Linked DNA regions of Homo sapiens. The protein of the gene in region 3 purifies or fractionates together with the protein of the main gene of each other region. This does not show direct contact. Each region holds a gene or a part of one and is shown on either strand. Other genes may lie near its edges. The genes, in order: WDR20, PDCD10, ALS2 and RAB5A.

Evidence for each region.
Region 1: the proteins of ALS2 (region 3) and WDR20 purify together in Homo sapiens (affinity purification with mass spectrometry; one large-scale study listed by BioGRID and IntAct). This does not show direct contact.
Region 2: the proteins of ALS2 (region 3) and PDCD10 purify together in Homo sapiens (affinity purification with mass spectrometry; one large-scale study listed by BioGRID and IntAct). This does not show direct contact.
Region 4: the proteins of ALS2 (region 3) and RAB5A purify together in Homo sapiens (pull-down; one study listed by IntAct). This does not show direct contact.

What each region holds. Positions count from the first base shown.
Region 1 is NC_000014.9:102,192,737-102,200,531, reverse strand, and holds part of WDR20 (WD repeat-containing protein 20), read right to left. Parts: intron 7,070-7,795; coding exon of another isoform or gene 7,018-7,069; intron 5,595-7,017; coding exon 5,412-5,594; intron 5,406-5,411; exon of another isoform or gene 4,659-5,405; coding exon of another isoform or gene 4,628-4,658; intron 2,778-4,627; coding exon of another isoform or gene 2,685-2,777; intron 1-2,684. UniProt on the Homo sapiens protein: Regulator of deubiquitinating complexes. Activates deubiquitinating activity of complexes containing USP12. Anchors at the base of the ubiquitin-contacting loop of USP12 and remotely modulates the catalytic center of the enzyme.
Region 2 is NC_000003.12:167,695,308-167,703,102, forward strand, and holds part of PDCD10 (programmed cell death protein 10), read right to left. Parts: intron 1,820-7,795; coding exon 1,702-1,819; intron 416-1,701; coding exon 289-415; intron 1-288. UniProt on the Homo sapiens protein: Promotes cell proliferation. Modulates apoptotic pathways. Increases mitogen-activated protein kinase activity and STK26 activity. Important for cell migration, and for normal structure and assembly of the Golgi complex.
Region 3 is NC_000002.12:201,758,461-201,766,255, forward strand, and holds part of ALS2 (alsin), read right to left. Parts: intron 7,368-7,795; exon of another isoform or gene 7,193-7,367; intron 5,151-7,192; exon of another isoform or gene 4,254-5,150; intron 3,359-4,253; coding exon 2,421-3,358; coding exon of another isoform or gene 2,343-2,420; exon of another isoform or gene 992-2,342; intron 1-991. UniProt on the Homo sapiens protein: May act as a GTPase regulator. Controls survival and growth of spinal motoneurons.
Region 4 is NC_000003.12:19,969,001-19,976,795, reverse strand, and holds part of RAB5A (ras-related protein Rab-5A), read right to left. Parts: intron 6,249-7,795; exon of another isoform or gene 6,079-6,248; intron 1,196-6,078; coding exon 1,044-1,195; intron 750-1,043; coding exon 627-749; intron 1-626. UniProt on the Homo sapiens protein: The small GTPases Rab are key regulators of intracellular membrane trafficking, from the formation of transport vesicles to their fusion with membranes.

The DNA.
Region 1 (7,795 bases), on a different chromosome or scaffold from region 3:
ACTTCAGAACAGGGCAGAGTGAAACACACACACACACACACACACACACACACACACACACACAAAAAAAAAAATTTAAAAAGTAAACTCCTCGCCCCTGTGGGGTGCTTCACCACAGTGAGCTGAATGTGACCGGGTGACTCTCCTCTGTGGGCAGCTCTGATGATGAGGACACGCTCCACGATCTGGGAGCTTGTCAGATGAACCGTGCGCCAAGATACTTTCAATAATGGCCCATTAGACATTTTCAAGGGCATCATATGTACAGAACGCTACAAACAGAAACCCAAAATCTACTCTGGAAGATTGGGGAAAGCAGAGACTCCAGGGAGCTGGGGATGATTTCCTGAGAGGGGCTAGAAAGGACTGGGCATTCGACTTTCTTTGGGTCTTGAACAGATGCACCAGCAAGGACCTCCAGTGTGACTGAGGACAGTCCCAGGGAGCGGGAAGAGGGCAGGGCCTGCCCATGCTCACTGGGCTGACCTGATCAGGGCCAGACTTGGAGATGAAGTTTGGTGAAGTTTGCCTTCACCCCCAATGGAAGGTGTGAGCCCTATGGTGTCCCCTCATTGAAAACAATCACAGACTGTGAAAGTCAACAGTGAGCGTCACGGTTTAGAGGTGATGCTTTCCTACCTTCTTTGTACCTCTCTATTTTCCAATTTTTCTATCAACAAGCATTTTAAATGCACACAATTTTTAATTGACAGGGGGAAAATCATCTTTTAAAATATACTTGTTCCCAGATGGGAATTTTTCATCTATGTTTATCTCAGGTGGATTTCTGAAATTTATAATTCCATTTCACTCATCTTTCCATCCCAACATTTATTACATTTTCATGTACCAGGCACCAGAAAGGAGGCAAAGGCCAGAGTAACTGATGCTGGGGATTCGGTGTGTGAAGGTGTGTGCACGTGTGGTAACAGGTGGGTCTGAGAGGTGTTCTGGTGAGGAACACTGAAAGGCCACATTGCTGTAATTGTGACCAGCGGGCCAACCCTCAGCCTCACACATGTTGACTCTCTGCCTGGGTTGCCATGCTCCTACCTGCTTGTCCTAAAAAATTAATTATTTGTATTTCAAAACGGTTGGTATCTCACCTCCCACGGAACCCTTTCCGTCCAACACCACCCCTCCCAGGAAAGGAAGCCTGAGTTTCTCTCAACCTCCACGTTGCTGAGCATCCACCAAGGCTCGCTCTTCAGGCCCTTCACAAACACCCTGCCTGAACTCACTCATCTGAGCCTCATCACAAACCTCTCAGGTGGGTGCTGTTCCCACCCATTTTCCAACCGAGGAGAGGTAAGACCCACATCATCCTGCAAGCAGAAAGTGGCAGAGCTGGTGTCCGAGCCCTCAGCATTCTGGGCTGTGAAGTTGTAAATGTCGTGGTAATTAACTGTGTGTTAAGTGCCCCTTTGAAAGCAGTAGCTGAGATGGCCAGAATCTTGGAGTATAATCAGGCCTCAGACCCAGGCCTTCTTTGTTCTCACCATCATCTCTCCAAAGAACCTTTCATCTAATCTCAAGGATGTGATTATTATTTCTATGCTGACAACTGCCAAATTGTAACCCCTAGTTTTGTGCTCCAGATCCATACATCCCACTATCTACAGGTCTCTCGAACTTAGCAAGTACAGACCAGAACCTCTGATCTTCCCCTCCATTCCCTGACAACTGCTCCTTTCCCAGTCTCACCCAACACAGCAAGAGACACCCAGAAACCTGATTTATTAATACACCTTTCCAATTCAGTCTCCAAAAAGCAGCCAGGGTACCTTTCAAAAACACCAATCTGCCTGCCTTGTGCACCTGCTCCCTTCTAAGGAATCCCGTACTTCAGGCTAAGAAACAAATCTGGATCAGGCCGTAGGTGATGTGGCCCTCCAATCTCATGCCCTTACTTCATGCCACCTTCCCCAGGTAAACCGTCCTTCTTTCAGTTTCCTTGGGCTCAAGGGCCCTCATGTGCTATTCCTTTTGCAGGAAAGCTCCATCTCCAGTTCCTTACCTGGTTGGCCTTCTTCTCACATGAGGCACAGCTTAAAACATAGCACTTCGTCCGAGAGATGTCCTCTGCCTCCCAGTTTAAAGTAGACCTCTGTGTTGGCCAGGCGTGGTGGCTCACGCCTGTAATTCCAGCACTTTGGGAAGCTGAGGTGGGTGGATCACTTGAAGCCAGGAGTTCCAGACTAGCCTGGCCAACATGGTGAAATCCCGTCTCTACTAAAAATACAAAAATTAGTCAGGTGGCCTATAATCCCAGGTACTTGGGTGGGTGAGGCACAAGAATAGCTTGAACCTGGGAGGTGAAGGTTGCAGTGAGCCAAGATTGCGCCACTGCACTCCAGCCTGGGTGACAGAGTAAGACTCTGTCTCATAAATAAATAAATAAATAAATAAATAAATAAATAAATAAATAAATAAAGTAGACCTCTGTGATTCTCTCCCTTTCTTGGGCCTGCTCTCTTGCCTCTTACATCACAAAGTGTCACCATCTGTGGTCACCAGTGTTTCGGGGGTGGTGCTATTATACCTCTCTTCCCTCCTGAGAGGGGTCACAGGAGGGCAGGTTTTGCCCACTGCTGCAGACCCAGTGCTGGGCATGTGGTAGGTAGTCAAGGTCCTGAATGAATGAAACAATGGCCGCAACTCTAGTTCAAGCCCTCAGCTCTCACCTGGACAGTTACTAGAGCCTCCTCACTGGTCTTGCTACCTTCATTCTGTCTTTCTTCATTCCAATCCACCTTCCACAAGTGCTGACAAGAGTTCTAAAAAAACACATTTGATCCTGTCACTCCCTTCATTAAAAGGCCAAAGGTTCCCCCACATCTTCCAGTGTCAGTTCCAAATTGCTTCACGTGACATGAAAAGGCTTTTATAAGACAAGCTGGTTCCAATTTATCTTTCCAGCTTCGAACTCTGACACTCCAAGTCCCACACTGTGATGTGGCCAAGCTGTTACTGGATGTTCTTTCACATGCCTAGTTGTTCCTCCAGCTTTGAAGGCCTTCCTTACCCTCCTCTAATGACTATGTACCCTTTAAGACCCACATCAAACATCACTTTCTAAAAGCATTTCTTGGAACTCCCCCAGTGAACTTAACATTTTAAAAAACTTTAAAATGCATACTAAAGAATTCCTGCGGCAGCTAGCCCTTGGTATTTTGTTCATATCGCTGTGCTGACACGTGCCCAGTACTCTCTGTCCATTCTTACTAAACTGTGAGCTCCCGGAAGGGCAAGAGCTCATCTGGCAACCATGCATGGTGGGTCCTGTAACCAATGAGTTTCTGGAATTAATTTCTGGTTCCAACTCTATCATCAACTTGCTACCTGATCTGGACAATTCACTTATGTGCTCTTTGACTATTTCCTCATCTGTAAAATGGGAACAACTCCCCACCCTCCCTGTAGAGGCCATAGGTAAAAGTGCCTTGAAACCTGTAAATGTCACACCACAGCAAAGCACGACACGATGACTACTTCACCACCATTCCTGGCACTCTCTAAGGAACAAACCTCCGGTGACCCTTGCTCTTAGACATTCTGACCAAAATCTGATAAAAATGTATCCACATGGCCAGAGGATCTCCTTACTATGAAGGGCAATCGATTTCAGCCTCAAGCTGTAAATGCAAAGCTGGCATTAAACCACACACAGTCTTAGCATTCTAAATAGCAATTTCTCAAATAAAATGTAAAGTGAGTATGAGATAACTCATGCTTAAATCATGAAGAATGAGGAGCTGCCTTCCAGCCTGCAACTCCCAGTCACCAGGGCAGGGATAGTTCTGGCCAATGCAGCCTGAGTGCTCCCAGAGCCCTGAGATTCTGGGGACGTGTGGTCTCCAACTCCCTGCCCTCCCCCTGCCACGACACACAAAACTTTCTTGTTCTCTAAGCGGCATTCTGTACCATCCTCGGCCAGGGCTGCCTCCGGGTCTTGTTTACTAACAGCCCTTACATGGCTCCAATCCCTGCCCCCTCCAATCACACTCTCCCCTACCTAAACAATAAAAACCCACAATGATTCCAAATTCACAATTTCTGCTAACAGTGCAGAGGAGGCCAATTTTGTGCGCTGCTCCCCAAACTCAGCACCAAAAAAATAATCATCCAGCTACTTAGAAATCACTTCTGCAGATGATACTAAAAAAACATCTAGGTAAATAAAATATTTTCTGCTTAACTTTTTTTTAATGGAAAATGGGATTAAATACTTTTCCTCTACAATCTGTCAGTCCAGATGGCAAGTTTTGTTTCCAGTCAACTCAGAGGAAACTAGAAGAGATGGCATGGTTCATAAGATCTTATCAAATCCACTGGCAATGTCAAACAGGAGCACCCTGGGTGGATACTGATTTGCATGAATAGCAAGTACCATAACTGCAAAAGAATCCAAATTTTAACTGCCATTTGTCAATTTGAATTTTCTTCCCCAAACAAAATTATTTCTTAAAAACCATACTCTATAATGTGTTTTTGTTCCAAGTTAATGATGTTAAAACCATGCAACAATGCAAAAGGGAGGGGGTCCCACATAGCCTGACCCTTGCGCCTCAGGGGCAAGGTCCCAAGTAGAGATTGGAACCCAGGGCTTCTAACTCAGCAAGCCTACCTTATCTTTTCCACTTGGTAGAAAAGTCATACTGAAACAGACGAGGAAGAATATTAAATATGAAATAGCAATACTTGAGGCTGAAAGATGCTCCAACAGCTTTAAAAAATATAATCTACTTGGCAATTTCTATATGCCACATTTAACAGTCCTGACATGTTCCTGAACAGACAGCTCAGATATCTCAGGCTCTTTCCAGAATGAAATTGAAGATACTAGAAACCCCAGTACATACTACAACACTGGCAAAAGCTATGTCATGTGACCAAACTTTAAGCGCCAGGATTTCCAACTATGTCAAAGATGAGTTTACAGTAACTATTTTCAAGAGCAAGTGAAGTACTCCTTAGCCAAATGACTGTCAAACATACATACAAAAGCTTTGGCTACAATTTAAGCAGCCTAAGGAAATGTCATCAAGTTCTTTGATCTGCATGAAATGTTCTGGTGATGTGAACCAACTTTGGAATTCCACATTTTCTTACTTAAATTATAAATACCGAGTTACAGTACTGTCCCTATCTCCATTATAGAAGAGTTTTAAAACACCTGTTATAGACACCTGAGCATGCTCCATAAAAATGCACAAAACAGTCACCCCAAGGAAGAACAGGTAAGGTCAACAAATTAATCCACCACATTTAAACTTGGGCATACTAGGTAGGAGGGCTGGGCGAATAAAAAATGGGCTTAGCTTGAAGTGCAAAATAAGGCCGACTACCCTCGGTAAGAATGTATCAACTCTTAAAGGGATTCTTAACAGCTAAGACAGGGTGCTACTTACTTCCTCATTAAAAAGTTTGCTAGTTTCTTTTTTGATTGGGTCTATAAGCTGGACTTGGCCTGCGGAAAAGCCCACTAGGAGAGAGACACTTTCTGCTGTGGCTGTTAGGTGGTTGAAGTCATGACAAGTAGGCTGTGTTCCTTTGTATATCCTTTTATCTATTGGTTTACTCAAGTCAGCAGCCTGGAGGAGAAAGAGAAAAATACATACAGTAAACAGCACATTGAGATGAGAAATCTAAGTTATGCTACTTTATACTCCATTATGATGTTTCATCTTAAAAACAAAGTGATTTAAAATGTTTTTTCAGTTGTGACTTAACATCATCTAACATTTTATAAAAGCACTTTCACATACCTTAGCCAATTAGATATTATTAGACTATCTATAATATGTTTACAACTGTTACTTTCACAACTTATTCTCCTTCAAATATATGTAACAAAGACTCCTGGACTTCAGCAGGAAATATCCTTGAGATATTAAATTCAGTATTTTCAAAATGCATTTCAAGCAGTGTCTAACAGAGTAACCACATAAAAAGCTCGGCTTTCAAATGTATCTACAGCACCTACATGCCCACTGGCCAGTTACCTGCAGCCCAGTGGTTCTCAAAGTGTAATCCCCAAACCAGAAGCAGCAGCAGCAGCATGTGGGAACTTAGAAATGCAAAAATCTCAAACCTCACCCCAGACTAAATGAATCAGAAACTATGGGAGTAGGGCCAGCAAGTCGTAAAGAGGCTTCCAGGTGATTCTGATGCCCGCTCAAGTCTAAGAACCACTGCTGGAGCCCACTCTATACAGGTGGCTCCCTTCCTGGGTCAAAATCCCTCTTCTGGATTAGGTTTCGGGGAACATTACTTATCGAGGCCATAATCAAAGGACTTTACATGCATTGTCCTTAATCCTAACAATAATGCTCCAAAGTGGACAATATTTTACCCATTTTACAGATGAGAAAACAAGTTTAGGGAAGTTAAATAACTTGACCAACGTCACCATACCTACCTAAGTAAGTGGCAGGGCTGGATTTGGAACCCAGGTCTGTTTGACCATTAAGGGGATGGGGAGAGAGAGTCAAAAGCAAATGATTTCTCACTTGGGTGAAAAGTGATTTTTCAATGTGCCCTCCCCACTTTCAAGAAGGATTCTTTTCTTCATGAGAAATGTCCTGTGGCATCCCAATATGCTGGGCTTTTATTGGTGAAATAAGGGAAACCCACCCCCTCCCACTCTTGTCTGAAAATCTCCAGTGGAGACAACTAACCCTGAAGCAGAACTTGTCCCTCAAGACACCCAGTTCACGCTGTGTGGCCCTCTGGGGCTCCCGGCTCTAGTTCTCTACTGACCGCCCCCTCAGGTTCTGAAGATTTCTTTCTTCCAAAGAGGCCTGTGACATCGAACCAAGTATTCTAATGTTGGACTTTCCAATAACAAATATAAGTAATGAGTAGAAAAGAGGACCTCAAAATTACAGGCGTCTTTGAGCAAACTCAAAACCTTGCACATGTAGAAGTCTGGACCTGAGCGGTAACAAGTAGTTCTGGGAGCCCCAGGGCAAAGGAATGAGGGTGCATGCCATGCGGACACTCTCCCAGCCTCACCTCAGTTAAAACGGAGATGAGAATCTCTGTTCTACCAACCTCATGGGATTGTCTGGAGGATGAAATAAGAGAATATATACATGAAAGAGCCTTGAAAAGTGTAATACAAAGCATGATACAAAACAAAAGGGAGTCCTGACTGGAGCGAGGAGAAAAGCGGCCAGTGGAGGGGAGCGGCCGCTGTACAGCAAGGCAGGCTGAAGGCAGCTCAGCCGAGTGCTGCGAGTGAGCAGCGGGGCCTGGGACGATGGCCACGGACAGGCTGTCTGAGGAAGGCAGCTTCTGAGCGGCTCGGATGGCAGGGAAAGAGAATCCTGGCCTGAGAGAACACCACATGCCATTCATCTCAGAACGAGGAAGACAGCCACAAAAAAAAAAACAAAAAAAAAACCTACAAATATAAAATAAGATATAACTGGCAGCTAGAGAACAAAAATCCAATTTGAAATACGAACAATTAAGTTATACATAATTACTGTATCAGCATATTCAACTCTTGAGACTTTTTTTTTTTTTAGTTTGCTTAAGAAAAATAAAAAATCAGCTAGGTGTGGTGGTGCATGCCTGTAGTCCCAGTTATTCAGGAGGCTGAGGTGGGAAGACTGCTTGAGCCCAGGAATTCAAGGTGACAGTTAACTAGGATTGCACCACTGCACTTCAGGCTAGATGACATAGCAAGACAAATGACAGCAACAACCACTTAGGGAACTTTCCCCTGAAAGAATATACCTAAAATTATGCGCTGAAATACACAGATCAATTTAAAGGCTGGCCAGAA
Region 2 (7,795 bases), on a different chromosome or scaffold from region 3:
AGTTTCTCTATTCATTTATCTGACATTTATATCTTCCCATCATTTATGTAGTTCAAACTACATTCCAGTTTATGCACATTTCATTGTTGTTTTAAAATTAAACATTCTAAAAAATGCTGTACTCTGAAACCAAACGCCATAAAGTTAATAAAATGTGGTATTTAAAAATTTGAGATTTTATTTCAAATAAGCATTTCAAGTTAGTCATACCAAAATTAAAAAATGTAGATGAGTAGTTCCTCGGAAGTACTTTTAAGAAAAGAAGAAACAAAACAAATAATTGCTTACTTGATTGTCTGCAGAAACCTCACTCTGTCATTGATCTCATCTGGGATCTTACTGAGAATTTGTTTAAGTGCTCGTGCCTTTTCGTTTAGGTCTTGGAATTCTGGCTCTGGTCGTTCAATCATATACTCTGATAAAATAAATACATAATAAAAAACATCCTGCGACTCTCTGCCAAATTCATCACATCTAAGAATTTCCAATGTTGGTCAAAGGCAGGTGAGGGAGGTGAAAGGCCAGATAATTAGGAAAGACAAGGTTGCAAAGCAGAATTCATTAGCGTTTGACTTAGTCCAGTAACAACAGCAGGGCTCCCTTCAAGTAAAGTATCACAAAAAGAAAGAATAAATATTTTCAATTTGGGACAAAAGGACATCCCATGAAATCTTAAAAAAAAAAAACACACAAAAAAAAAACAGATTTAAAAGGGAGGCTTAAGTTCAACCGTACTCTGACATTACATTTCCCAAGGAAACCTTAAATTAAATAATGAGTGTCATAACTAGTGCAAAGGTAATATCTACTTGCCAACTGGAAAGATTAAAAATTTAAAACCCCTATATTTAATATACATTGCTTCATCATATTAAAACCCCAAATAATCTAATAAAATCTTCTACACATTTTTGAAATCTCACTTAAAAACAAAAACACCAGCACAAATCCAACACACAGGCTGGGATCACAGAACACCAATTTTGGAAAGGAGACTTCACTAGATTCATTGCAGACTTGGAAGCATTACAACTCTACCAATTCATCAATATATTATGGCCTAATGGGCTGCAAATGCTCAACTCTAAATAATGATAAGGGCTTTCTTAAAATCATGGAATCAGTTAAAATACCTGCTTTGTGTTCTTCCTTAATAATTCTGGGAAATTATATGTCCATATTTTTCTAAATTAGTGGGAAAACTGCTACTAAACTTAAGTAAAACCAACGTCTAAATAATTTCAAGTAAAAAAAATAAGAAAAGTAAAAAGGATGGTTATATTATTCTCTTAAATCTGTGCTTGAAACACAGATGCTGTACTAAAGTTAAAAAAACAACAAAACAAAAACCTCATTACTTTCAAACTGTTGTTTGCTTAAAGTCAACACATTCCAAATAAGCTTATCTTTTAGTAAAACTGAAACTCACCAAACATAAAGGGGGGAAAAATTGAAGTATGCAGCATAAACAAAGTTCAAGTAATTAAATCTCACAAATATAAAAAGCAAGAAAAACCATTTTTCTATTTTATCTACATTAGCTTCCACTATCACTATCACCACCACCACCATCATCATCATAAGTGAAAGGGAGGGAGGGAAAACAGTAGGGAAGGAAGATCCTTTGGTCAAATAATAATGATTTAGAGGAAGTGCTATTTAACAATTGTATAACTTAAACAAGGTTCTTCTGTCCGTTACCTTCTACATCATCAGCTGCCATACGAAGAAGGGACTCCGTGAAGTTAACTTCCACGCTTTTTTTCTCTAAAATTTTCATAATGATGTCTTGTGTGAGACCTGGATTTTCTTTTTCAGCCTATAATAAAGAGAAAACTAGTTTTGAAATACAGATAAGGAATCAACATTTTAAAGCCAAAGTTTAATTGTTTAGAATCTGTTGGGAGCGTCTTACACTGATAACTTTTAAGGGCAGAAATCTTTGTAAAGCAGGTGTCATGATAGCATTCACTAAGGCTTTGTTAGAGCTTGTGCACCCGACTCTTTACTATGACTAAGGTTCCATTTTCCATTTGAACAGAAAGAACTTAGTATTTTCTACTCTTCTTTATACTCTTTTGCAATTGAACTAATAACAAAGATAGAATTAAGGATTATATATGTTTTAGTAATCTATCAATTGCTATTCTCATTACTTTAAATATCTTGAGAATTTAAGCTTTTTTTAATGTGCTAATACTGCAACTCAAGGATCAAGCAATAACTCATCTGACTAGTGTTTTGCATATTCTTTCCATTTATATTAAGAGAATGCCAGGAAAAACAAAAAAGGATTTATTTTGAAGGTTTTACTGAACCTATATAATAATACCTTAACTATTTTCCCACACAATGATTTTCATTTCCTATTTTATTTTTGTAGCAAGAATATTTCCTTCACTGGTTTCTAGAACATCATGAAACCTTTTACTACCTTTTGAGCTTGTTTCATTGAGTTTGCATTGGTTCTATGTTACTTAGACTCCCCAAGACACTAAAATTTTCTAGCCATTTCAAGACTGGGCATAGAGTTCTGAGTTTACCAAAGCCAGAGTTAATCTTCAGATTTCAGTTTTTCCCAGTAAATTCTGTAATCACACTTGATGTTTGTTTCCTGTAGGATGCCTGCCAATTTTAATCATTATGCTGATGATTTTCTTTCCTTTTTGCCCTAATATTAAACAGCAAAATAGAAACACAATTTACGATCTTAATCAGATGGCAATCTTTTTGTTTCCTTATGTGTCAAGCACACTTAACCTCCGCCTCTTCAATTCCATTGATTATCACTGCAGATACAGTTTTCTTCTCTTCCTATTGCTCTTTCCATTATAACATCTTGTTTCTCATTAGATCTCAAGTATCAAAAACTGAAGGGTTGTGGGATGAAATGAGAAAAGAAAATACACGCATTTATTCCAATCTTCGGATCATTTTAAATGCTGTCAGATACTATTCAGGAAAATCATTTTGATAGATGATTAATAACAATAAACTGTGTTTGACTGAATCCTGTTTCTTTTACAGCCTATGTTGACTTTTCCTTCCATGGATATATATTTTAAAAAGAATCTACTTTTTAGCCAGGCATGGTGGGGTGTGGCTGTGGTCCCAGCTACTTGGTAGGTTGAGATGGGAGGACTGCTTGAGCCCAGGAGTTCGTGGCTGCAGCGAGCTATGATCATGCCACTGCACTCCAGCCTATGATACAGAATAAGACCTCGTATTAAAAACAAAACAAAACAAAAAAAACTGTGTTTTTTAAAAAAGGAGTTTCCTTTATAAGATGTCCAAATATGGCTTAAGATGTGTTGTTATAGCATTAATGCGGTGAACTGCCACAAAATTACATATAATGTAGCATTCAGTAACAATACTTTATCTTATCTAGCAATAAATCTTCCTACATAATGAATTATCTTGGGGAGAGGGGGAACATTCTCTATGTGCTTGCAGGGGACAGAAAAAGAAAAGCATATCTCTGATTAAGTTATAATAAAGTACTGAAAGGTTAAAATGCTGAAAGTCTGAGAATAAAGTTTTCAATACCAAGCTGGTCTGGGACCCCAAAATGCTAAAGCTAGAGCATTACAAAAGTCTCACAAAGGTCCCTAACTTTCTCAGTTTTCAGTGTCCTTAGTGCCAAAAGATACACCTCACAGTGCTGTTTATTAAATACTTAGGTCTAAACAACTTAATAAGTATAGTGTCCTAACTACCTAGCCTTTAAAAAAATAATACACATAAATTGAAAAAAACAATTTTTACTCTGTTCTTAAATAACTATTGTCACTTATTACTGGGATGTGTGTGCCTACTGGGCACTTCATAATTTCTCAAACATTGGTCTTAGATTGGACCTTGCCCCTCTCATTTCCTCTTGCAGATATATTTTTTTCTGGTACTTCTGTTAGATCATAGCACTGGCCAAAAAGTCCAGCTTCTCAATGATCTAACACCAATGAAAGCAGTGAAGGACAATCCAATATGCTAAATTGCAATCCATCTCAAGCTAGGAGTCCATGCAGTGTCAAACAGATGTTGAGTATCACTGTACACCTTCACAATTTTAAAATACTTCGTGGCACCCCTCTGAATTTGCTATGGGCCACCAGGTACCTCAGTACATAGTTTGGAAGGAGTAGTCTCAGTACCTCCTGGCTAAAAACCTGGTTAAGCTAATTCTTATTTCAAAAGCTTGAATTTACCAAATGGCTCTGACTGACAAAATGAATAAATATGGTCTTAAATCAGGGAGACAATCTACAACTCTTAGGTTTTCCCTCAGAATACAACATGAACCCTGTAGGGTGTCTAATCTTTGTAAAGAATCCAGCTGTAAGAAAAAAATAAACCGAAGGGCAGCAACATACACTCTTGTGGATCAGTGATTCTCAGTCTGGAAGACGGACAACCTATCGGAACCTCTCATAGAGGATAAGGGGGAGAGGGAATCAAGTAGAATATAGCTGACCCTTGAAGAACTGGTTTTAACTGCTCAGGTCCATTTACATGCAGATACTTTTCAATAAATATATAGGAAAAATTTTTGGAGATCAGCAACAATTTGAAAAAACTTATAGACAAACTGAGTAGCCTATAAGTAGTGAAAAAAATAATAAAAACACATGTTATGAATGCATAAAATATAGTTATCCACTAGTCTATTTTAGTATTTACTATAAAATAGATACAAATTATTAAAAAGTTAAAATTTATCAAAACTCACACGCAAACAGACTGTACATGGTGTTATTTGCAGTTAAAAGAAATATAAACAAATATACAGATGCAATATTAAATCATAACTGCACAAAATTAACTGTAGTACACGTGTATATGTAATAAGTTTGAAGCCACCTCCTGTTGCTATTGCAGTCAGTTCAAGTATTAGTAAGTATATGATTAAAACGCCATGTGACTCTAATCAACTCCATGTGAACAGTTCATCTCTCCAGCAAACTGCACATCCCAGTACAAAGTAATACCTCCCAGCCCTCACATATTTTTCTCATCGTGTTTAGTGCAATACTTTAAACATGGGATAATACCATGGGACCCGACAAAGTGCCACTAGTGATGTTGGAAGTGTGCTCAAGAAGCAAAGTCATGACATTACAAGAAGGTGTATTGCATGATACTGAATTGCTTGAATACAGTCTAAGACTCACTGTAAGAAAAAAAAAAAAGGAAATTCATGAAACAAAGCCATTGCTGCAGCTACATCAGCAGGTACAAAAACCTTGCATGTTTTGTGAAATACCTTTTTGTCTCCTGTTGAAAATGCAGCTTTTATGTTGGTGCAGGATATCTATAAGAAAGGCATACCTATAGACCCTAATATGATTCAAGAAAAAGCAAAGTCATTCTATGACAACTTAAAGCAAAAGGAAAGTCTAAAGCTGAAGAATTTAATGCCAGCCAAGGATAGTTTGATAATTTTAGAAAGAGGTTTTGCTTAAAAAATGTCAAGATAACAGGAGACCCAGATTCTGATGACCAAGAGGCAGCAAATAAGTCCCCACACACCATTAAGAAAATCTTTGAGGAAAAAAATATCTGCCTGAAAAGGTTTTTAATACAGATCAAAGTGCCCTATTCTGAAGGAAAAAATAGCCACAAAGAATATTTATTAGTAAAGCAGAGAAGTGAGCACCAGAATTTAAGGCAGGAAGAGATAGGACAACTCTACTGTTCTGTGCAAATGAAGTCTGGTTTATGATCAGGACTGTCCTTATTTATAATGCTGCTAAACCCTCAAGCCTTGAAGGGAGAAGAAAAACACCAGCTTCCAGTCTTGTGGTTGTACAAGAAGACCTAGACAAAGAGAACCCTTGTTCTAGCCTGGTACCATCAATGCGTTGTTTCTGCGGTTAGAAAGCATCTTGGCAGGAAGGGATGGTCTTCTGAAGTTCTTCTGATTGTCTATATATATCTATAGAGATACCTATATATCTCTATATAGCTAGATCTACAGATATCAGATATATATTGAGATATCAGATATATATATAGATATCAGAGATATCTACATATACATACACACACATATATATGTATTGTATATTTAATTAGAGACAAGGTCTTCCTATGTTGCCTAGGCTGGTCTTGAACTTCTGGCCTCTGGCCTCACACTTCAGCCTCCCAAAGTGCTAGGATTACAAGGCATGGGCCTCCGCACCTAGCCTTTATTATTATTGTTGTTCAAAAAAATTCTTCTGATACTGGATAATGTCCCTTGCTTCCCAGAACCCCATGAGTTCAACACTGAAAGGCATCAAAGTGGCCTACTTGTCCCAAAACACCACACCTCTAAATCAGCCTCTACATCAGGGGATCAAGAACCTTTAAAGCTCATTATACATGGAACCATAAGGCCTCTATGGAAATGGCTGTCAACAATCCTTGGTAGAAAGAATACCATGAAAGTCTGGAAGAATTACACCACTGATGCTACTGTTGTTATAGAAAAACCCATCGAGCCTAAAACAATAAATTTCTGCTGGAGAAAACTGTGTCCACATGTTGTGCATGACTCCACAGGATTTACAACAGAGCCACGGAAATCATGAAAGAGATTGTAGATATGGTTAAAAAAAACGTAGAGGATGAAAGGTTTCAAGATATGGATATCAGAGAAATTTAAGAGCTAATGGACAATGAGGAAGAAGACAAAGGAGTGCCAGAAAACAAATGGACATTAGACAACCCAGCAGAAGAGTTCTCTTTATTCAAGGCTGCTTTATGACATGGACCCTTCTCTGATACAAGCACTGAAACTAAAGCAAATGTTGGAAGATTGGTACTGTACAGAAACATTTTTAGAGAAATGACAAAGCAAATAAGTCAGAAATTAAACATATTTCTGTAAAGTTACACTAAGTGTGCCTGCCTCTCTTGCCTCCCCATTCACCTTCTCTACTTCTGACATCCCTGAGCTAGCAAGACCAACCCCTTCTCTTCTTCCTCCTCCTCAGCGTATTCAATGTGAAAACGACAAGGATGCAGACCTTATGATGATCCACTTCAACTTAATGAATAATAAATATATTTTCTCTTATGATTTTCTTAATAACACTTTCTTTTCTGTGACTTTAAGAATACAGTATGTAATATATAGGATACACAAAACATATGTTAATCAACTGTTTTTGCTACCAGTAAGATGTTCTGGTCAACAGTAGGCTTTTAGTAGTTAAGATTTGTGGAAGTCAAAACTTATACTCAAATCTTCAACTCTGCAGGGGGTCAGCACCTCTAACCTCCACACTGTTCAAAGGTTAACTGTATATACATTAAAATATTCAATGGTATTATCTTGGGAAAAACTATTTTAATCCTCTTTTCCCTCCAAATAACAAAAACCATGATGAAAATTATTGTCGTTGCGGACCAATAATTGGAATTATGAATATAAAAGATTTTATGACTGGTGAGGTTTCTTTCATCTTTTTCAAAAGTTGTAATTTAAAAAATACAAGCATCTTTACATTTTTAACATGTCCTCCTTCAATTTCACTTGAAATGTAACAAACTAAATGTGATAATTAAAAATACATCAGTGTAAAATTAGTTACTTTGTTTTCTTCCAAAATAAGTAATCTATGCCATAGACAACAAACTTTATCCATGGATCAAACCACATCTATCACGGTCACATAATTGTACTTAAGTGTTAGATAATTAGCTTATATGTTAGGATGTTACAAGAAAAACCCTCAGGAAATTTATTATTTTATTTTATGAATGTCATTGAAGATACTATCTACTCCTTCGGACAGGGTCTTCTTCTCTC
Region 3 (7,795 bases):
CATTTGGAACCAGTGTTCTTAGTGTGATTCTAGAAGTGTACTAGAAAGTCAAACTAAAGTTTTCTGATATCTTAATGAAAAAATCAGTTGAAATTTACTCTAAGCTGTCAAACATCATTGTTCCCTAAAAAGGAAGGTCATTAAATGTACCTACCAAACACATAAAAAAGCTTTCAGCTCATCAGCATAGATCATATTGAAAAATTTGCTTCTTATTGTACCCAAAGATCTCAAAGGGAATATACACATTCCTTCATTTGTCCTAAACTAAAATACAAATATAATGTGTGTGTGTGCGCATGTGTGTGTGTGTGTGTGTGTGTGTTTGTTTGTATATTTTAACATTGGCATCTGACTTCCTAAAGGAAATAATTCCTGGTACCTAGCGAAGTGCCTGACATGTAAGTACTCAAAACATTTTGTTGAATTAAACGCTAAATTCAAAAGAGCTATTTCCATGCAAATTAGTCTGTAAATAGTCAATAAACAAATATACTTAATAAAACGAAAAAGAAATACAAAGCCTATTACTTCTTTGGTGATACAGCTCCCACGATAGCTTGTTCAGAAGAACTAGTGTCACTATGTCCACTTTTTGTTTACAAAGGCTCCTTACATAAGCAGTGATGGTATTTAGAGGTAACTATTTTAGGGGGTTCTTAACCACTAGGTACAGCAAAGTCACAAAACTCTACCTTATATAAACCTTGAACTACTGTTCTAACTGGCTCCTTCTACTTAATTATATTTAAAAATATAGTAATAAGCCCTCCCCTACAAAAAACATAATTAGCAATTTTGATGAAATATATAATTTTAGGAGTTCCAGTCAACCAGTAATACTTTGGTTTATTTCCCAAGTGAGAGAGTCTCAGTTATATCTCGCCAGAAGAGAAAAAACTTGCCCTAAAACAAATAAATTCCTTGTGAATTAGCTGTATGATTGAGATGTTATTTACAAAGAATAAATTAAATGTAATAGAAACACACATTTAATTTAAATAAATTAAATTTAATTCAATAGAAACACACACATTGTTACTAGCATAAGTAACAAAAACTTCCAATGTTTAACAAAGTAAGTAAAATGTGATAAGCATGTACAGTCTAAGAATTTTCTACATGCATTCTTGTTAAACTACTACTTTTGCTTTGTTCAGACTTTATAATACCTTTCTCCAAACAGCTTATCCTTGATTTTTTTAAAAATTCAAATACCCACAAGTTTCAGTGAATAGATTGTGAAATAAAGACTATTTCTAAAAATACCTTCATGTTCACATTCTGACAGAGTAAACAATAAGAATTGAGAATCAAGAGGCTATGTGGTTTCAAAAACCTAAAAAGAAACACTGCAGGACAGATCTTTTATGAGTATGATCTTTTGTTTTGTTTTCTTACAGTTTTGGTAAAGCAAAATCAAAAGGCCACACTAAGAGTAAAACACAGAAATAATCCTTTTAAAACAATTTAGTTTAAGCGGGAACTCAAACTTTACCATGTGCTACTGATAAACAACTTTTGTTCATTCTACCACAAATCTTCAAAATGAAAATAGTTTTAATAAGATATATAAAATAGGCTGGGCATGATGGCTCATGCCTGTAATCTCAACACTTTGGGAGGCTGAGGTGGGAGGATTGCTTGAGCTCAGGAGTTTGAGATGAGCCTGGGCAACAGGCTCTACTCTACTTAAAAATAAAATCAGCAGGTGTGGTGGCATGTGTATAGTCCCAGCTACTTGGAAGGCTGAAATGGGAGGATCGCTTGAACCTGGGAGATCGAGGCTGCAGTGAGCCACAATCGCATTACTGCACTCCAGCCTGGGTGACAGAGCAAGACCCCATCTCAAAAACAAACAAACAAAAAGATAAAATATTAGCCACCTCTTCAAATTAAGCCCAGTAAGGACCACAGCTATAATTGAAAAAAACTGAAACATGTAATTGCCTGTAAGTTTTAAATCTGCCTACAATTGAAGGATCTGCCACAAAACAATCTTCCCTGTTAAAGAAGGAAAAGACTTTTCTCTACAGAATTCTGAAGAGTGTTACAAACACAAGTAAGAAGAATCTTTGTGAATCTCTAGTTATATTAAACTATTCAGGGCCCACCAAAATTCAGTACTTTAGCCATAGAAAAAAAGTACTAGCAAGAAAAAAAAATGAAATGCTCCTACTTATAAAACAAGCCCAACATGACACCTTTCAATATCATAAAGGGCCAGAACAAACATAAAGAGTGATTTTGAATTAATCCAGGTTCTTTCCTTTATCTAGGCTTGCCTGATAAAACAAAATTATAATCAAACTCAAAAAATAAAAAATGCTACCAAGCCTTACTCATTTTAAAGTTTCTAAAGAAAAGCCCATACAGTTCAACTCTAGACACACTTTTATTTTATAAAATTGAGCAGGTACCTGAGATGGCACTGGCTTTTCACCATGCTCTGAGTCCTCTCTTACTGAATGATCTGACAGTTTCCGTAGGTATTCATTGACTGCTTGGGTGTCAGGGTATGATGGTATGTTTCTGGCAGAGGAAATTTCAGTTGTTCCCATGACATTTTGTTGAGAGGACATGGCATCGCTGCTTGTGATCTGAGCACTTACTGCATTCAGTTCAGTAGCAACAGACTGATCATTTGCTACAAGAGTGTTCTCAAATACTTCTTCCTGCCTGTCAAGGGTTTCAGTGGAGGGGCTGAGAGCAGTGCTGGCATGGTTTTCTGCCTGAGATTCTGTCAGTGTCACACCTAATGGGCAACAATGACTGTCTGATATAATCACATGGTCTTCTTTGTCAGTCATAGTAATCAAGAGCTGGCTGCACTGGTTGCATCGTTCTGGGACTGGCTTCAGATCCTGGGAAGGGAGGCATTGTACAAGGGCTAAGCTGTGGAAAGCACCACAGGCAACTTGAAGCACCACTCGCCCAGCAAGATGTTCTACCTTTTGCGGCTTTGTCACTGGGAAGGCAGTGGTAATGAGACCCAACTGACAACCGGTACCCCATGCCCAAATCTCTCTGCTTATTGACAATGCCAGAGTGTGCTCCTCGCCACACGCCAACTGTAAAATCCTGACTGCTAACAAAGGGCTGGCCTCAGAATCAGCAATGCTGACAGGATTTGGTTCCGGCACATACTGCTGGTTGGCTACTGCACACTGGCCAGCAGAATTCTCTCCCCACATGTACGCGACACCATTGTCTGTCACTGCTCCACTATGGAAGCTTCCTGTTGCCACAGTAATAACATATTGCCCAACCAGGGCATTTTCTAGAATGGGGCTACTTGGACAAATCTCCACTGGTCCACTTCTCCAGGGAAGAGTCCCAAAGCTGTAGACCTCACCATCTGAAGGTTAAAAAAAAGAAAAAAGAAAAAAAAAAGGGTTAGTGAATTAACTAAAAATTTTAACAGCAAACTTTTAGTCCCCTATAGATTTAACCAAATTGGATTTTCTTTTTAAATTTTCAAAAGCAGTTGTAGAAATCTGGTTCAAGCACACAGTATTTCACATTAATTCATCTTTTTAAAAATGACTCTTTTTAATATTCTGCACTATAGTGAGAATTTCTACAAAGTGCAGGAGGCTAATCCTTTCCTTCAGCCTCATCCTACAAACTCCTCACATCAATCCACTCCTAACGGCCATCATCCAGGCTATTATAGAAACAGATTCCAAGTGTTCAAAGGCAAAATAAATAACCATGTTAAGATAAAATAAGCAAAAAATAAGACAAAACAGACACATTCACTAATATCTACAATTCACTACTACTAAACAAGTTGGAACAGCAAAAAATTATGCAATGGCTTAAAAATATTAGCGATTCATTTTGGCCAAAACTAAGAAATTAACTTTATGCCTCTAGGCTGTACAGGAAGCACCAGTTCTTAACAAGACATGGCTGTCTTCACTTTGTATGTCACATTATATATAGTTTTGAGATGTTACATAAATATACAGGTTGAGTATCACTTATCCAAAATGCTTGGGACCAGAGGTGTTTTGGATTTCAGGTCCAGGTTTTGGAATATTTGCCTTATGCTTACTGACTGAGCATCCCAAATCTGAATGTTCCAATGAGCATTTCCTTTGAGCACCATCACATCAGCACTCAGAAAGTTCTGGATTTTGGATCATTTTAGATTTCAGATTTTTTAATGTGGGATGCTCACCCTGGACTTTATGTACTAGATACTAGCTAGTCTTTCTGAGGTGAGATTTGTTTAAAAAGCAAATCAGCTTCTTCTCTGAAAAAACATCAAATGGCAGATGAAGCTAGGGCAGCAGGAGGGCCCAGAGGCCCCAGAGACCCTGGGATGGGGAACCACAGTGACTTCCATGGAGGCTTGGGCAGTGGCATCTGGGGCCAGGGTCGGGGCCACAGAGCTCAAGGAGGCAAGGCTGAGGATAAGGAGTGGACACCCATGACCAAGCTGAGCTGCCTGGTCAAAGACACGAAGATGAAGTCCTGCTGAAAACCTATCACTTCTCCCTGCCCATCAAGGAGTCTGAGATCATTGACTTTTTCCTGGGGACCTCTCTCAAGGATGAGGTTTTGAAGATTGTGCCAGTGCAGAAGCAGACGCGCACTGGCCAGCACACCAGATTCCAGGTGTTTGTTGCCACTGGGGACTACAATGGCCACTTGCTCCAAGGAGGTGGCCACTGCCATCCAAGGGACTATCATCCTGGCCAAGCTCTCCAATGTCCCCGTGCACAGAGGCTACTGGGGGAACAAGATCAGCAAGCACCACGCAGTCCCTTGCAAGGTGACAGACTGCTGTGGCTTTGTGCTGGTGCGCCTCATCCCTGCACCCAGAGGCACTGGCATTCTCTTAGCCCTAGTGCCCAAGAAGCTGCTGATGATGGCCAGTATCGATGACTGCTACTCCTCAGCCAGGGGCTGCACTGCCACCCTGGCCAACTTCACCAAGGCCACCTATGATGCCATCTCCAAGACCTACAGCTAACTGGCCCCCAACCTCTGGAAGGAGACTGTATTCACCAAGTCTCCGTATCAGGAATTCACTGGCCACCTCGTCAAGACCCACACCAGAGTCTCCAGACAGAGGACCCAGGCTCTAGCTGTGGCTACAACATAGGGTTTTTATACAAGAAAAATAAAGTGAAGTAAGCCTAAAAAATGTTAAAAATAAAAAGCAAATCATCACAACAGAACAAAGCAAAAAAGCAAATGAACCTGTCAGAATAACTGGCTAGCTTTAGAATTAATGAAAGGCACCAGTGAGTTGGGTATATAAATAACTCATGTATGTCCAGCTATGCTACCAAGTCTTAATTTTACTGTAGTATTGTGGGAGCTTGGGAGCAGGTACACATAAGCTATGCTGGCTAAAAATTCAATGAAACAAAGACTTGGCTACGGGTTTTAAAAAATACTGAGCCAAGCCCACTATCCTTTCTTTTCCATATGACCAGAGATTTATGATTTTTTTTAATTAATGAAGAAATAAGCACTGTTTTTTTTCTCATAAGGCAGCAATTGAGTTGATGATGAAAACATGCAAACTTTATCTTTGACCTATTATACATGGCAGATACATGTATACACTCAAGTTAACTCATCACATCATCTATATAAGTAAGGACTCAATAGTGGCTACAGGGAAGATATGTGCATTTATTAGGAAATGTATAGTCTGGTTCAAGAATACTGACATGAGAAAATAAGCTCACTGGTTAAGCTCTTTTAAACTTTGTTTCCTAATACAACAGTATACTTGAAAAAGCTCACCAAGTCTTTCAATTAACATTATTCCACTAGAAAGAGCAATACTGCAAAGAAATGGATATTTAGATCCCTCTCCTTAAAAAACAAAAACAAAAACTGGAGCATATAAAAAATAGTGAAACAGGCTGGGTGCAGTGGCTCACGCCTGTAATCCCAGCACTTTGGGAGGCAGAGGCAGGCGAATCACTAGGTCAGGAGTTTGAGACCAGCCTGGCCAATATGGTGAAACCCTGTCTCTACTAAAAATACAAAAAAAAAAGAGCCAGGAGTGCTGGCACTGGCCTGTAGTCCCAGCTACTCGGGAGGCTGAGGCAGAAGAATTGCTTAAACCCAGGAGGTGGAGGTTGCAGTGAGCTGAGATCGTGCCACCACACTCCAGCCAGGGCAACAGAGCGAGACTCCGTCTCAAAATAAATAAATAAATAAATAAATAAATAAATAAATAAATAAATAAATAAAAGTGAATCAATGAGGTATCTTCATTGAATTATGAGCTAATGGTCATATTTAATAGAGATGAAGAACCTTGAAAATTTCTAGCACTCAACCATTTCCTCAGCTGGAAAAGATAGCACTGGAGGTCCGTATGCAATTTCAAACATACACTTGTGTTAGACGACGTTTTCTTTTGGTAACTGTGACACTTAATACCAGGACACTGCTTAAACATGAATAACGATAGGCTATTTAAATATTTTTGAAAAGTTTTCCTTCAGTTGTCCTAGCCTTGAAGGTATGATTCTAAAGATACCATGTTTATAGTCGAATAACTTTTTTTTTTTTTTGAGACAGGATCTTACTTTGTCAGCTAGGCTAGAGTGCAGTGGCATAATCACAGCTCACTGCACGCAGCTTTGGTCTCCCAGACTCAAGCTATCCTCCTGCCTCAGCCTCTGAAGTAGCTGGGACTACAGGCGCAGGCCTCCATGCCTGGCTAATTTTTAAAATATTTCTTGTAGAAACATGGTCTCCCTATGTTGCCCAGGAAACATGGTCTCCTTATGTTGCCCAGGCTGATCTTGAACCCCTAGGCTCAAGGGATCCTTCTGCCTTGGCCTCCCAAAGTGCTGGGATTACAGGCATAGGCAATTGTGCCCAGCCAGTTTCATTAGCTTAATGAAAATATTCCAAATATCTTATTGAAAACAACAACAGAATTCCACTTATATTTGCTTGAGAACTATATATTTTAAATCTCATAGGACAGGTATTGAATATAGTTCACACTTTTAAAGTAAGATTGTTTTTAAAGTCCTGAAGAATAATATTATAATAAAACTGATATAAGACAAACTAGAAAGAAATCCATGTTTATCCCATACAACCACCAGGACCAGATTTAATCCTTGTTTCCTAGAATTTGTCTTCCTTTAGTTCCTAGAAAGAAAATACCAAAGCATTATTTAATACCTTAATAAATACTTACAGAGCAGAAATTTATAAATTAGTGAAGTAGATGGCAATTGGTGCCCAAGTCAAATTTGTCATGATTGAGTTGATAAAGTGCCATTAAGATTAAAGGTACCTCTATAAATTACAGCACACGTTTCGGTAATAGACTCATAGATTTTATAATATGCATTGTGAATTGCTATTCATGCCTGAAAAAAAAAATTATATTGAGAAAGTTCAGCCAAGTGGCTTTAAAAGCAGGCTTTGAAATCAGACTGAGTTCCAGTCCTGACTCTGACACTTCAATAGCTGTGTGTGCTTGGGAAAATTTAATCTCCCTGACTTTCAGTTTCCTTGTCTGTGAATAATAATAGAAGCTACCTCATAAGGTAGCAGTGCAGATTCAGTGAGATAACACATGGAACTTGTTATCTCACTAACTTGTTATCTACTAACACATGGGGCTTAGTATAGTGTCTGGCATACAACTGCTTAACAAACATTAGCTATTATTAGCATTAGTATTCTGATAGACTTAATGAACAAAAGTTATAGCAAGAGTCTCTGAATAGGTAACCTTTTAAAAAGTTAATTTTTCATGTATTTATTACCATAAAATTTTAAAACTATAACTCTC
Region 4 (7,795 bases), on a different chromosome or scaffold from region 3:
GAAGAGGGTTAGGACATAAAGTATGTGTGGGATGGAGGAATTAGGGCAGGATACAATCACTTTCTGCACTGTGAACAATGACTACTTTTACTGTTTTTCTTTTTTATTTTGAGACGGAGTTTTGCTCTTGTTGCCCAGGCTGGAGTGCAATAGTGTGATCTTGGCTCACCACAACCTCCGCCTCCTGGGTTCAAGAGATTCTCCTGCCTCAGCCTCCCAAGTAGCTGGGATTACAGGCATGCACTACCATCTCCAGCTAATTTTGTATTTTTAGTAGAGACAGGGTTTCTCCAAGTTGGTTAGGTTGGTCTTGAACTCCCAACCTCAGGTGATCCACCCACCTCGGCCTCCCAAAGTGCTGGGATTACAGGCGTGAGCCACTGAACCCGGCCTTTATTGTTTAAGTCTACAAAATCTTTGGGTCAGTTTATATATTACAATAATCTATTTAAAAATTTAGGTTTATCAGAAACATTTTATTATATGTAGTACTTTATATTTGTTTTAAAAATCAGTATTTTCTATTACTTGCATGGTTTTGACATTATAACTAATTCAAGTGTTGACATGAAAGAAAAACATACAGGAAAAAAGTGCCTTTCAAATGAGAGTTAAATTTAACATACCTGGAAATCTACTGCTCTTTTATTTGCTAGGTCGGCCTTGTTTCCCGATAAAGCTATTACAATGTTAGGACTTGCTTGCCTCTGAAGTTCTTTAACCCAATTTTTTGCTCTTGCAAAGGACTCCTGTTAAACAAAGAAACAGCCATTGAGCACAGGCTCAAAAAATGGTTACCAAGCATCTTTGTGATACAAGGCTTTAAAAGACTGTCCCAAGTGACTGTGGGAAAGAAATTATTAGGACTATTGTATTATGAGACATTTTCGTTTTTTTTTAAAACCAGATTTTCTAATTCACAAAAGCTTCAGCAGAAAGGTCATGACTATCAGAAAAAGATTTTCCAAAACATTTAATCAAAATTCTGAACACCAAAAGTGGGTACTCAAATTAGTTTTACTGTGGAATGCATCCATACTTACCTCATTTGTGATATCATATACAACTATGGCTGCTTGTGCTCCTCTGTAGTACATTGGTGCTAGGCTATGGTATCGTTCTTGACCAGCTGTATCCCATATTTCAAACTTTACTGTAGTGTCATCAAGACATACAGTTTGGGTTAGAAAAGCAGCTGAAAGAAAAGGACTACAATAAGTCAATCATTTTTCTCCAAATGTTTTCATAATATAGAAAACACCTGCTTGTATACATCTATCAAAATGTCACACTGTACCCCGTAAGTATGTACAACTATTATGTGTCAGTTAAAAGTAATAAATGAGGGGGGAAAAAAAAAGAAAACACCTAGAAACTTGACAGATTGCATACCCACAGCTGATAATAGCTTTAAATACTGGCAAACCTGTGCTTCTAAGCTATTTACATATATGCTTACATATAGGGCCTTTGTAGTGAAATCACAGATTGAAAAACTTCTGCATCTTAAAAAAGCTTGTTATAATACTAAATAAACTTAAGACTACATTTCTTTTCCTTCTTCTTTTTTTTTTTTTTTTTGATACAAGAGTCTCAGACTAGAGTGCAGGGGCGTGATCTCAGCTCACTGCAACCTCCGCCTCCCGGGTTCAAGCAATTCTCCTGCCTCAGCCTCCTGAGTAGCTGGGACTACAGGCATGCACCACCACACGTGGCTAATTTTTGTAGTTTTAGTAGAGATGGGGTTTCACCATGTTGGCCAGGCTGGTCTCGAACTCCTGATCTCAGGTGATCCGCCCACCTTGGCCTCCCAAAGTGCTGGGATGACAGGCGTAAGCCACCAAGCCCAGCGAAGACTGCATTTCAAAATTGCTCTACAATTAAAGAAATGCACTGATAGTCTTAAAAAATGAAGTTGGGGGAAACCCAGTGTGCCTAAAAGTACCATCTATACTGCTGACACCATGTCCTGTTCCATTTTACTAGTTTTTATTGGCGCACACTGGCAATTTAGTCCCAGTCAGTTACCACCAAATTAGTATTTCTTGTTATATTATCTTTTTTTTTCTTTTTCTGAGACACAGTCTTGCTCTATCTCCCAGGCTGGAGTGCCTCCCAAAAGTGCTGAGATTATAGGCGTGAGCCACCGTACCAGGCCTCTTGCTATATTATTTTTTAAAACATTGTGACACTTTAATTGTGGTAGTCATTATTACCTTAACCTAGATTTAATTTGTTCAGTTGATTCAATATTTGCTCCTACCTTTCATTCCCTGCCATAAGAATTTTTTGGATCTGTACTTTCCCTGATTCTAATTTTAACACTAGGAAAGTAGCATTATAGGCCAGGCGTGGTGGCTCATGCCTGTAATCCCAGCACTCTGGGAGGCTGAGGAAGGCAAATCACGAGGTCAGGAGATCAAGACCATCCTGGCCAACATGGTGAAACCCTGTCTCTACTAAAAATACAAAAATTAGCTCGACATGGTGGCGCTTGCCTGTGGTTCCGGTTACTCGGGAGGCTGAGGCAGGAGAGTCGTTTGAACCCATGAGGCAGAGGTTGCAGTGAGCTGAGATCGCACCACTGCACTCCATCCTGGCAACAGAGACTCTGTCTCAAAAAAAAAAAAAAAGTAGCATTATAAAATGATACAATATTGTTAAAATTAAAAGACCTACACACAGCCATTAGACCGCCCTCTGCTGCTGCTCTATCATTCACTGTAAATTGGTATGCTCCTCCCTTCCTTCTACATTTAGCTCAAGGTGTGATATTCAAGCCCTATTTCCAAATTGGTATGCACTTGAATTACCATTTTCTAAAACTGTCATATTATGCAAAAGAATTATGATATATTTCTCTAAATTACAGCCGTTTATCTAGTGACGTTGATAGAGATGTACTAACCAGTATCAAATGTGCTAAAGAAACAAAGTCTAATGAGATATATCTCTTTTACGTTAGACACAACATTTATTTTTCACGCTCTTTTAGGTTAACTGGTTGCTGGCTTTAGTATCAACAACTAAAATCTTCTGAATTTTGCAAACAATACTGTAAACATCTTCATTTGGACCTAGATTCTAATTAATAGTTTTATGAATTCTCATTAATCACATTGTAAATATATTCTAATCCAGTTCAAACTTTTTTTTAACCAACAATTAGCAGAATTGTCCATTTTCTAAAATATTGTATTTATGGTAAAGGATATCCAGACAGCACTATGTCACTTTTTGAAGGTCACGAGAGGTTCTCCTGTAGGATCAAAAAATGTTTTTAAACTAAAATTTTAAACTAAAATTAAGTCCCTAAGACAGTACTCTTACCAAAAAGGAAAAGAGGAAAATAAGTCACAATACATAAGCCTTTTTTCAAGTATAGTTTGATGCAGACTTGCAAAAAAAAAAAAAGGAATTAAAATGTGCACAGACTGTTTCATTTTTCAGACATACTATGATCACAAAGTCTACTAGTACTAAAAACATTCACTTATACGTCCATAAGTAAACTTCAGGCTCAGGGAAATAACTATAGTCATCCCTCAGTATCTGTGGAGGACTGTTTCCAGGACCTCCCCATATATCATGAAGGACTGGTTCTAGAATCCCCAATGGATAACAAAATCTGAGGATGCTCAAGTCCCCGATATAAAATTGCAAAGTATGTGTATATAACCTAAGCACATCCTCCTGTATACTTTAAAGCATCTCTAGATTACTTATAATATCTAATACAATGCCTGCACCTCACGTCATCCACATAGATTCAACATAGTATTAAGTGTGTGGCAAATTTAATTTTTGCTTTTTGGAGCTAAGTTAATTTTTTCCCCCTTAATATTTTCAACTTGCAGTTGGTTGCATTTATAAATGTGGAACTCACAGATTCAGAGGGCCAACTGTATTAGAGATGTTGCCTTAAAGAAAATATGATCCAATTCTCAAGCCAGTTAAAGACACAAGAGGCCACCATACATGTACACCATACATGTACAAAAATGCCAAATACAAAGAAATTGCAACAAATACATTAAGACAAACAAATGCCCATTACCAAGTACATTCTTTCAGAAATACAAAACTATTACATTAACAGGCTAATGAAGAAAAATCCATTTTATTTAAACAAATTACAAAAAGGCATTTGAGTCAATATCCATTCCTAATAAACACACGAGATTCTTCCTTATGGCAAAACAGGGCATCATTCCTAAATCTAGGAACAAAACCAAGGGAAATCATGCTGAACAGGAATGGATCCCATTCAGATTAACAAAGAAGATAATCAATTCATTCCTCAACTCTGCTTAGAAACCTTCCTTCATTCCACCCTAGTTAATATCTCCTACATCTGTGCTCCCAGAGTTCTCTGTGTAATAACGTTTCACACCTTTTATAATCATTGGTTTATATCTTTTTCTTCTCCTTGATTGGGAGTTACTTGAGCAATGACCACAGGTTAAGTATCCCTTATCTGAAATGCTTGGAACCAGGAATGTTTTGGATTTTTAAAGATTTTGTAATATTTGCATAATGAGATATTTTTGGGAAGGGATCCAAGTCAAAACATGAAATTCGTTTGTTTCACATAAAGCTTGTACACATAGCCTGAAGCTAAAATAATTTTGTGCATTAAACCAAGTTTATGTACACTGACTCATCAGAAAGCAAAGGTGTTAAGTGTGGAAATTGTTCACTTGTGACATCATATTGATGCTCGAAGAATTTGGGAGCATTTCAGACTTCAGATTAGGGATGCTCAACTTGTAGTAGCTCCTCTCTGTACCAACATTTAATATAAATCCTTGTTCATACAGATGTTCAAAAATGTCTACTAAAAGAAGGAAGTTCAAAAAGATACATGGAACCATTTAGAGGCTACTTCAGATAACATTTGAATGTAGAGAGAGGCAGCTCCCAAATGTGAAAAAATAGATATTTCACAAGGTATCTACTCAAGTTGTAACACAACCTCAAAAACAACATCAAGATATTTTTCACCTGATAACACTGTACTGGGCCAGGTGCGGTGGCTTCCACCTGTAATCCCAGCACTTTGGGAGGCCGAGGCAGGTGGATCACCTGAGGTCAGGAGTTTGAGACCAGCCTGACCGGTATGGCGAAACCTCGTCTCTACTAAAAATACAAAAACAATTAGCCAGGCATGGTGGTGCATGCCTGTAACCCCAGCTACTCGGAAGGCTGAGGCAGGAGAATCACTTGAACTCGGGAGGCAGAGGTTGCAGTGAGCTGAGATTGTGCCATTGCTCTCCAGCCTGGGCAACAAGAGTGTAACTCTGTCTCAAAACAACAACCACCACCACCACCACCACCACCGTACTACTGTTCATGTGGTATGATAAAGCATAATTTTGGGGGAGAAAAGACCAACATTAGAGGCCAGGGAAAATCAGTTTTATAATATACTTTAAAAAATGAAAAGTGCTACAGTACTAAATGAACAGAAATATTACTGGAATAGTGTAGCCCACTATAATAAACTCTTGATATACATAATACACCCTAAGACGTTCATGATTTCTCAAAGTCCTAAAGTTTTAAAATACTACTATAGTGTTTTTTTTTTTTTTTTTTGAGATGGAGTTTAGCTCTTGTTGCCCAGGCTGGAGTGCAATGGCGCGATCTCGGCTCACTGAAACCTCCGCTTCCTGGGTTCGAGTGATTCTCCTGCCTCAGCCTCCCGAGTAGCTGGGATTACAGGTGGCCACCACCACGTCTGGCTAATTTTTGTATTTTTAGTAGAGATGGGGTTTCACCATGTTGGCCAGACTGGTCTTGAACCCCTGACCTCTGGTGATCCATCCGCCTTGGCCTCCCAAAGTGCTGGGATTACAGGCATGAGCCACCACACCTGGCCAAATTCCACTACAGTGTTTAATTTCCCCTATAAAACTCGGTGAAGTGTAACTGACATTTAGGTGACATCTTCAAATCCTCAGTGCTCCTAAAAATACATTACTAGTAATTTATAAAGTTACGTAAACAAATTCTGCCACTGAAAAGATAAAACTACTACATCAATACTGTAGCAACATTAACCAACCACAAACTTACCTGAATCTGTAAAACCACTTTAATTTATCCAAAACGTCTATTTTCTGGCTAAGAACCATCACTCTTAGACCGCTTCATTTTCTCTTCACTTCCATCACCAGCACTAGCAGTTGGTTTTCTTTTCGGGCCCATATTTCACAAAGAAACAGCTTTTATCACTTCGAGAGTTACTGTGTACGCGATGACAAGTAGAGAAAAACAAAGCTGCGTTGAGATGTGGGTGCTGGCCTGTCTGATAGGCTCCCTCTGAGCTACGTGATCAGCTCCTATTTGCAAGCCTGGCAGCAAGCAAGTAACATTTCAGCCTCAGCAAAACTACAAATTACTTTACCACAGACCCTGGAATCAGGTGAGAATAGCTGAAGCTTTAAATGTCAAATCTGCAAATACCAAAGGCCTATTATAATATGCAAGACTTAAACAGTAAGCCAGGGGAAGACACTGTAACACACTGGGCAAGGGAAAGGATATTCAAATTGATGGCATTAAACCAAAGATTAATAATTAAAAAACAAAGTGGCTGGGCATAGTGGCTCACGCCTGTAATCCCAGCACTTTGGGAGGCCGAGGTGGGTGGATCACAAGGTCTGGAATTCAAGGCCAGCCTGACCAACATGGTGAAAACCCGTCTCTACTAAAAATACAAATTAGCCGGGCATGGTGGCCGAGGTGGGTGGATCACAAGGTCTGGAATTCAAGGCCAGCCTGACCAACATGGTGAAAACCCGTCTCTACTAAAAATACAAATTAGCCGGGCATGGTGGCATGAGCCTGTAATCCCAGCTACTCAGGAGACTGAGGCAGAAGAATCACTTGAACCCGGGAGGCAGAGGTTGCAGAGCCGAGATTGTGCCACTGCACTCCAGCCTGGGTGACAGAGTGAGACTCCGTCTCAAGAAAAAAAAGAAAAACAAAGTAACCGCCACCCCATAACTAAAATGATTCTACATGAATTAAACAGAAAGGGGAAAAATACAAAAACTGAGAAACCATACAACTTCAAGCCCAAACTTATTATTTATCAAAATTGACAGGAAAGAATTGCTTTATTAAAATTGACCAAAATTCTATATAAGACTACAGATTTGATTACACAAAAATATGAAACTTCAGGTTTGCAAAACTTGTGTCATAACATCCATAACAAAGGGGCAAACCTAATGAGAAAAATTTCTACAATGGATGCTAAGTGATTAGTATTTTCAATGTGTAGAAAGCTATTATAAATGTTTAGAAAAACTTTAGAACCTCAGGGATAAATGTGTAAAGACAATTCACAAAAGAACAGAAAAGGAGACCAGTAGTCAATGAAATCATCCACATAGTCAAAACAATTTTTATCTCCTAAATTAGCATAATGAAAAAATAAAAATACAGCAGGCATGGTGGCTCACGCCTGTAATCCCAGCACTTTAGGAGGCCGAGGCAGGTGGATCACTTGAGTTCAGGAGTTCAAGACCAGCCAGGAACATGGTGAAACCCTGTCTCTATTAAAAAATACAAAAATTAGCCGGACGTGGATGTGGGCGCCTGTAATCCCAGCTACTTGGGAGGCTGAGGCAGGAAAACCGCTTGAACCCAGGAGGCGGAGGTTGCAGTGAGCCAAGATCGTGCCTTTGCACCCCAGTCTGGGCAACAAGAGTGAGACTCCATCTCAAAAAAAAAAAAAAAACCAAAAAAAAAAAACCAAAACCAAAAAACACCAATTTGCAAAAAA